Linked DNA regions of Homo sapiens: region 2 is linked to region 1. A link means that fine-mapping ties the variant in region 1 to the expression of a gene that starts in the linked region. Tissue or cell type: subcutaneous fat. Region 1 holds a variant in brackets; the other region holds the start of a gene. All regions are shown on one strand. Distances are between the middles of the regions.

Evidence for each region. PIP is the estimated chance that this variant, and not a neighbour inherited with it, causes the effect. A credible set is the group of variants that fine-mapping cannot tell apart.
Region 2: it holds the start of REEP2, and the variant in region 1 is the best candidate, but not a certain one, in a credible set for the expression of REEP2 in subcutaneous fat (FUSION, PIP 0.52).

Annotation. Positions count from the first base shown.
Region 1 is chr5:138,287,898-138,292,135 of GRCh38, reverse strand. CDC25C (cell division cycle 25C) reads left to right here. Exons shown (of 14, transcript NM_001790.5): 8 at 20-166; 9 at 1,396-1,497; 10 at 2,573-2,635. Among named protein-coding and RNA genes, the nearest start is that of GFRA3, 15 kb to the right of the region's middle. The variant G/C (reference allele first, on the strand shown) is at 2,597.
Region 2 is chr5:138,437,023-138,441,239 of GRCh38, reverse strand. REEP2 (receptor accessory protein 2) reads right to left here and starts at 2,183. Exons shown (of 8, transcript NM_001271803.2): 1 at 2,000-2,183; 2 at 152-224. The coding sequence starts at 2,031. KDM3B (lysine demethylase 3B) reads right to left here. Exons shown (of 24, transcript NM_016604.4): 24 at 4,213-4,217. RefSeq lists an enhancer at 1,017-1,550 and a silencer at 1,936-2,355.

The DNA.
Region 1 (4,238 bases):
GTTTAATATTCCCAAACAGGTGAGCAGAAGTGGCCTATATCGCTCCCCGTCGATGCCAGAGAACTTGAACAGGCCAAGACTGAAGCAGGTGGAAAAATTCAAGGACAACACAATACCAGATAAAGTTAAAAAAAAGTATTTTTCTGGCCAAGGAAAGCTCAGGAAGGTAAGAACTTTTTAAGATGAAAATCTTGTTCATCTTCTATCTCATGTCTTTGCTTTTCTGGTATGAGGATTGTTTTATTATGCCTTTTTTGTCTTCTTCCTCTTTACTTTTACTTTTTCCTCTTTGTTCTTTCCATCTTTCTGTCTTTTCTACATCTGTATCCACGTGAAATATATATATATATATAAAATATTTATATAACATAGATACATAAAGTATATCTATATTGTACTTTTAGAAATGTTGTCATAGGCCGGGTGCAGTGGCTCACGCCTATAATCCTAGCACTTTGGGAGGCCGAGGCGGGCGGATTGCCTGAGCTCAGGAGTTCAAGACCAGACTGGGCAACACGGTGAAACCCCGTCTCTACTAAAATACAAGAAATCAGCTGGGCGTGGCAGCATGTGCCTGTAGTCCCGGCTACTCAGGAGGCTGAGGCAGGAGAATCGCTTGAACCCGGGAGGTGGAGGTTGCAGTGAGCCAAGATTGTGCCACTGCACTCCAGCCTGGGCAACAGAGCAAGACTCCGTCTCAAAAAAAAAAAAAAAAAGAGAAATGTTGTCATCATACCGTCTTCCCAACCCTTTTTCTTAAGATCTGAAAGAATACAAGGGAACTTTGGTATGGATATTTTACTGCTGTTTTACATGCAGTCTGACAGAAACAACATCATATAGCAGGTTGGTTTTGTGGAAAGCAACTTCTGAAAAACTTAGCCTTTGTCCTTTACCCTCCCCAACTTTAAAAAAATTAAATAGATGGGAGGATCACTTAAGGTCAGAAGTTCAAGACCAGCCTGGTCAATATAGCATGACCCCATCTCTAATAAAAAAAAATAAAATAAAAAATTAAAATTCTAAAATCTTTGGATATTTTATAAAATCAACTTATTTATTTATTTATTTATTTTCCCCTGAGATGGGGTCTCACTCTGTCACCCAGGCTGGATTGCAGTGGCATGGTCTTGACTCACTGCAGCCTCAATATTTATTTATTATTAAAAATAATAAATAAACAAATGGAGTCTCACTCTGTCTCCCAGACTGGAGTGCAGTGGTGCAATCGTAGCTCACTATAGCCTTGGCCTCCTGGGCTCAAGTGATCTCCCTACCTCAGCCTCCCATGTAGCTAGGATTACAGATGTGCGCCACCATGGCCCACTCCATCCACTGGTTTTTAAACCTTTAACATGAGGATTGGGTGTGGGGTGGGAATCTTGTCATCTTCAGGGCTTATGTTTAAAGAAGACAGTCTCTCTGTGTGACATTACTATCACTCAGATGCTGGAGGAAGATTCTAACCAGGGGCACCTGATTGGTGATTTTTCCAAGGTGAGTTTGGCTACACCCATCCTGTATTTCAGTGAGTCATTTTGGATCTGAATCTTCTCTGTTTGCCGAGAATGCCTGGTGTAAATATGCATCCTCACCAAGTACTCTTTGGTAACCTGACAGTGCTCTAGTGGTAGATCCAGGCCCTAAGCCTTTCCAGAGAGAAAGTATTTCTTATTCTTCTGGGAAGATCCAGAACAGGGGAAAGTATGAGACTTTTTACCTTTTTTCTGTTTAAAAACATATTTTAAAATTATGTAAATAATACTTGGTTGTTACAGAAAAAGTAGAAAATGAAGAAATTTATCCCAAACTTTATTAACCAGGGTAATATTGCTTAGTATATACTCTTTTTTTCCCCCCTACTGTCTGTGTAATTGCAGAAGGTACATATTCTTACAGATTTTTTTCTGTGTTTTCACAAACACATATACAAATACAGTTTTTGCTTTTCTACAAAAACAGTTTATATTGTTTTGTTATCTGTTGTTTTTCCTCTCATTTAATAATTATATCAGGGGCATCTTTTTTCATATTAATAAGCAGTTATGCTTCATTCTTTCTTTTTTTAAGATTCAAGGTCTTGATCTGTTGCCCAGGCTGGAGTACATTGGCATGATCATAGCTCACTTCAGCCTCGAGCTCCTGGCCTCAAGAAATCCTCTCTCTCCTTGGCTTCCCAAAGCACTGAGGTTACAGGCATGAGCCACCATGCCCAGCCCATTTCATTTTAATAGCTCCATATTATTTCTTTTTTTTTTTTTTTTGGCTGCTCATAATTTCTTCATAAATCCCTTCTTGTAAGATATTTGGTTTTACAATTTTTTCTTATGAATGATACCAAGATGAATATATTTGTAGAGAAATCTAAAACTTCGTACACATCCTTGATTTGTTCTTTAGGATCAGTTCTTAGAAATGGACTTGATGTATATGCACTTTATAGAGACACTGATTTTTTTGAAGGCCTCTGGGGTTTTAAGGGTCACTTGGAAAGAAGGACAAAATAAGGGTCTTTGATCTCAAACTTGGGTGTGGAATACTTGCTGTTATTTCAGCTCTTGTGTATTTCTAGGTATGTGCGCTGCCAACCGTGTCA[G/C]GGAAACACCAAGATCTGAAGTATGTCAACCCAGAAACAGTAAGCAGATTTCTGGAGATGGTAACTGGTTACATAAGCTACCATCTGGTCTCTTCTGTCCCTAAAATGCCCATTTCCATTTGTATTTCTTTCACTGTGTTCACTCACACAGGCTCCTTATTCAACTGAAGTTATATTGAAGGACTCATTTTTTTCCCCATTCTTCTCTCTCCTTCGTTTTTAGTTAAACAAATGATACATAGTTTTTGTAAAAGGGAAAAAGGGAGGGGTCAGGCATGGTGGCTCACGCCTGAAATCCTAGCATTTTGGGAGGCTGAGGCAGGCAGATCTCAGGCACTTGAGGCAGGGAATTCGAGACCACCCTGGCCAACATGGCGAAACCCCATCTCTAATAAAAATACAAAAAAATTAACCAGGCGTGGTAATGTGTGCCTATAATCCCAGCTACTTGGGAGGCTGAAGCACAAGAATTGCTTGAACCCCAGTTGGGGAGGTTGCAGTGAGCAGAGATCGTGCCACTGTACTCCAGCCTGGGCGACACAGCGAGACTGTCTCAAAAAATAATAATTACTTAAGAAAAAAGGGAGAAAGAAAGGAAAATAAAAAATCACACACAAGAAATGGTCTCAATTAAGGTCTCAATTAGGGTGACCATGCACCCTCGTTTACATTTTACAATCCCATTTTCATCTATTAGTGAGGGTAATTATTAATAGTGTTTGCTTTCATTCTCAAAAGTCTCCCAGTTTGTACAAAAATTATTTGGTCACCATACCCACAATCTCATCACCAGAGATAACCACTAGTCATATTTTCCTATGGCCTTCCAGATTTTATTTTATTTTTAGACATGGAGTTTCGCTCTTGTTGCCCAGGCTGGAGTGCAATGGCACAATCTCGGCTTGCTGCAACCTCTGCCTCCCGGAGGTCATTCTCCTGCCTCAGCCTCCCAAGTAGCTGGGATTACAGGTGCCAGCCATCACACCGACTAATTTTTGTATTTTTAGTAGAGACGGGGTTTTACTATGTTGGTCAGGCTGGTTTCAAACTCCTGTCCTCTGGTGATCCACCCTCCTCAGCCTCCCAAAGTGCTGGGATTACAGGTGTGAGCCACTGCGCCCAGCCCCAGATTTTATTCTAGCATATGTTTTATAGAAATGGGATCATGGGCCTAGCACAGCTCACACCTGTAATCCCAGCACTTTGAGAGGCCAAGGCAGGCGAATCACCTGAGGTTGGGAGTTCGAGACGAGTCTGACCAACATGGAGAAACCCCGTCTCTACTAAAAATATAAAATTAGCTGGGTGTGGTAGCGCATGCCTGTAATCCCAGCTACTCGGGAGGCTGAGGCAGGAGAATTGCTTGAACCCGGGAGGCAGAGGTTGCGGTGAGCCAAGATGGCACCATTGTACTCCAGCCTGGGCAACAAGGGCGAAATTCCATCTCAAAAAACAAAAAAAAAGGATCATGATGAACGTATAGTATTGCAATTTGCTTAGTGAGACATTATAGACATCTTTCTATATCAATAAGGTATCTATATTATCATTTTAATGGCTATATAATGCCGCTCTATTCTACTGACATGTACAATTTATTTTACCAAACCCCTATTATTGAATATTGAAGTTATTTCTAATA
Region 2 (4,217 bases), 150 kb before region 1:
GTGTGGGACACCCAGGGCCCTCCTTTGCTGGTGGGTCTTGTTAGTGGCTGACAGTGTTGGTGCAAAGTCACCCCCATCTGTAATAGGACCCAGTGCCCTCCCCTCTCTGTGCCATGTGGGTTGGGTAGGGGGTGAAGGGTCATCCACTCACATATTCCTTCACGTTTTTTGTCTTCACGGCCTTGTAGGAAGAATAGGCTGGGTACAGGGTGCCAAAGATGAGCCTAGGGAGGCAGGCATGGTTACTGGGCCTCTCAGCCAAGGGCAGTGGCCTCTCCCTCCCAGCTCCGCATCAGCCCCTGGGTAAGTAATGGGAAGAGAGACAGAACTCCCCGCTGGACTGATGAACTCAGGTCAGGGGTTAAGGTCAAAGCAGCATGGAACATGCCCAGCCAGGTAGGGTGATGCCCCCTCCCCGCTCCACTGTTCAGTTTTTCTCTAGCCCCGGAGGCAGGGAAAGGCCCAGAGGCCAGAGGGTCCAATGTAGTCCCTTGCGCCATGATCCTTGGTTACACACAAATATGTCATGGAGACTGGGAGTCAGGTCACTGCCACAGGGTGTCTTCCTTCTTGACCTCATGCCCATTCACACCCATCTGCCCTTACCCTCCACCTCCCTCAGAGCCAGGCTCTGCGAGGGAACCTGACACCACCTAACAGGGCACCCTACCTGGCAGGCAGAGGTACCACTGTGGCCCTGGGGCCCTAGGGAACAGAGGGCACAGGGGCAGGAGGCCCTGAGAGAGGCAAAGAGGCTTATTCCCCCATGTAAACACCACAGGGACAGGGCTCAGGGGAGGGCCCCGCTGGTGATCCAAGTACAGAATGCAGACAAGACACAGGCCGGGAAAGAAGAGGACCGATGCCCTTTGGGGCTTGCCCAGGCAAGAGAGAAGCAGCCACCCTGAAGGCCACATGGAGGCGTGAGGCCCCTCCATTCCCCCTGGGATGGGTGGGGGAAGAGAAGGAGTCTAGAGTAAACCAGGACAGAAGCACTTGGCCGGCCCGGCTGTACCGAATGGGAAGAAGGGAGCAGGGTGGGGCTGCCGGTGTCAGTCCCCAACGGTGGAGGCCGAGGGGCAGTGTCCTCATTAGGGCAGGGGATAGCTCCGAGAACCACGAGGAGCCCCTGTCAGGCTCAGCCCCTTGACAATGTGTGGCTGTCGCCTGTTTCCACATGGACAGGAGGGATACTTCCAAACCGGCTGGTGCAAGTGGAGTGCGGAGCAGAATCCTCAAGGACAAAGTCTGGGCTCGTGGGGAATGGTGTGTGTTCCCTCCTGGGGCCCGGGGAGGTGCCAGAGACACAGCTCCACAGTGTGGCTGGCAGCCTGGAATGAAGGCCACGGAGCGTCCTCCCCCAGCGGGGTCCACAATCCCAGGCTGAGCACACACATCCCCTCTCCCAGTTACCTCTCACACTTTGTCCTCCGAGCATTTCTGCTTCCCGATACCCAGACTTCCTCCCTAGGGGGCCTAAGGGCATATGCCCTCGTCCCCAGTCTCCTGACAGTGAGTGGAAGGGAGAGACCAAGGGGCCTGGTGATGGCTCTGAGCTGCGGAATGATGATGAGGCCCTGCCTTGCTCCACTCTCTTCCATCACCCTGTTACCTCCCCCAGAGGGACAGGGCCCGGGTCTGAGGATCTCCTCCAGCCCAGACCTGCTAGGTGGGGGAGGGGACGCGCCTGCCTCCCCTTTTAAATCAAGCCGTGCTGCTCAGCCTCTAGGATGGGCGCAGGAGCAAGGACGGTAGAAATAAAAGAGGTTATTAATAAAGAATGTGGGTGAGGTCCCTGGGAAGCCAGGCCTGCCACGCTCCCCTAATATTCCCCCCTCCAGTCCTGGGTGCCACATCTCCATGTCTCTGGGGGCCCCAAATAAGGACGCAGCGCCTTTAGGTGACTCTGCTGCACGAAGCTTCGGAGAAGTCCACCCGGGCTTTAACACCCCCGCCCTCCATCACAGCCCGCATCACCCCCCGCCGCCGCCGCACTCACACCACCAGGCGAGAGATGATCCAGGACACCATGGCGGGGCCGGGCGCGGCGCGGGGCGGGGACCCGGCCCGGCCGAGGATGCAGCTGCCTGAGGCCGAGCGGCGGCGGCGGCGGCAGCAGGAGCCGCAGTAGCAGCAGCAGCCGCTGCAGCAGCCGCCGCGGGGGCAGCGGAGCGCCCAGCGCCGCCGTTAAAGGGGAGGTCCCTGCCGCAGCGGCGGGCCGTGGGCGGTGGCGGCTCTTAAAGGGGAGGCCGGGAGGCCGCCGCGGCGGCGGCGGCGCGCCCCCGCCCCGGCACCTGCTGTGGCCGGGCATGCGCCTCCGACCCTCAGTGCCCTGCCTTCCTCGAATCGCTTGTTCATCTTTCTTGGGTTTCAAGCCCTAGGCTGTTGTCGTGGAGGTCTCCATGGTTACATCCTGAAATCGACCCCTGCCCACCTCCTGCCCTGCCCACACCAGGCGCTTACTGTGTGCCAGCCCCTGTGCTAAGAGCTTCACTGCGTTGCCAGTGAATCCTCTTGACCACCCTATAAGGCAGGCGCTATAAAAGCCCTCATTTTGAAGATAAGGGAATGAGAAGCTTAAGGCTCAATAATCTGTTGAGAGTCACAAAGCCACCAAGTCATGCTGCTAAGATGACCCCAGGAAGCCTACTTTAAACAGGTTACATCCCCCAACTGCTGACTAGCAAACTCTCCTCATTACAGGCCCTGAAGACATCCACCTGAGCTCCTGAGTCACAGGTACAGCCGCACCTGTCCACCCCACTCCTTCTCACCCCGTTGAAAGAGGATCTCCCCTGACCAGATGATGTTTTGTTTTTTTGAGACAGGTCCTCACTCTGTCGCTCAGGCTGGAGTGCAGTGGCACAATCTCAGCACACCTCCTGGGCTTGAATGATCCTCCCGCCTCAGCCTCCCGAGTAGCTGGGACTACAGGCCCAAAACACCACCAGCTAATTCCTGTTTTTTTGTTTTTTGTTTTTTTTTGCCAAGATGGGGTTTTGCAATATTGCCCAGGCTGATCTCCAACTCCTGAGCTCAAGCGATCCACCCGCCTCAGCCTCCCAAAGTGCTGGGATCACTGGTGTGAGCCACCGGGCTGCTGGTCTGCTTTTTTAGGTTGTCAGCTCCTAAGCTTTGCAGCGGAACAGAGCTTTATGCTCTCAATGTGGTTACTGACAACAAAGGGTCAACCTTCTTTTCAAACAGAGGGGCTGCGAGAGGGTCCTGGGGCTCCAGTTCCACCCCCATCAGCAAGCACTAGTGGCAGTGAATGTCCTGATTCTAAAGACATTTATATCCAGAATGTAGGCTAGCCTGCCTCCTGATCTTCAGGAAAGCAACCAACCTCCAACCATCCACCAACACCCCCAGCCCTATTGCTCTCCTTTCCTGTCCCATTTTAGAGCTTCTGCATTCCTCTACCCTTTATGTTGAGTTGTAATCCTTCGGGTGACCACAGCATCAACCTGTGCCCATCTGGGCTGAAAGGACACATTCAGAACTGTGTATTTCAAAGAGTCATGGTCTTATTCAAGCTCAGTATCCCTGAACAACACAATGGTCTATTTCTAACCTGGTAAATTATATTTCCAGGTTCAAACACTTTGGAAGATGTTTCCCAAAACGTTCCAGAAAAGCAGCCTCTGATAACCCCTCTTGCTATTCTTTACAACTTCCTCTCCAGAAAACATCTCCTAATTGGAATGCAGTCTGTTATCACCCCACAATGAAACACTTTAATTACTGCTTGATAAATCCCACATGAGTGTCTCCCACCATCTCTAAGGTGGATCTATGGCCACACGTTTCATGTAGGCAGCCAGGCTGCCTGCTTAAGAATCCCACCACAGACTGTCCAACTTTGCTGAGGCCACACACCATGACCCTTCCCCCCAGACTCTGCCACAGGAAGGGAGGACCCCAACTTTCCCACTCCATTCACAAAGCATAAAGTATGGGGAAACATGTCTCTCTTTCTACCCTCTAATTCATGTGGCCCCTTCCCCTTACCCCCAATTCCCCAAACCATACTGACCTCACCCTGGCACTTTCCTTTTTTCTAACATGGCACAGTCTCAACAAGCAAAGAAAAATATCTGGGTGTAGCACAGTCATGAAGACCTGGAAATGAATCCCCCACCTCCAACCCAACTCCCAATCTGATGTTGATTTTAGAAGGGTTGGTACACGAATAATTTAGTCCACTCCAAACAGAT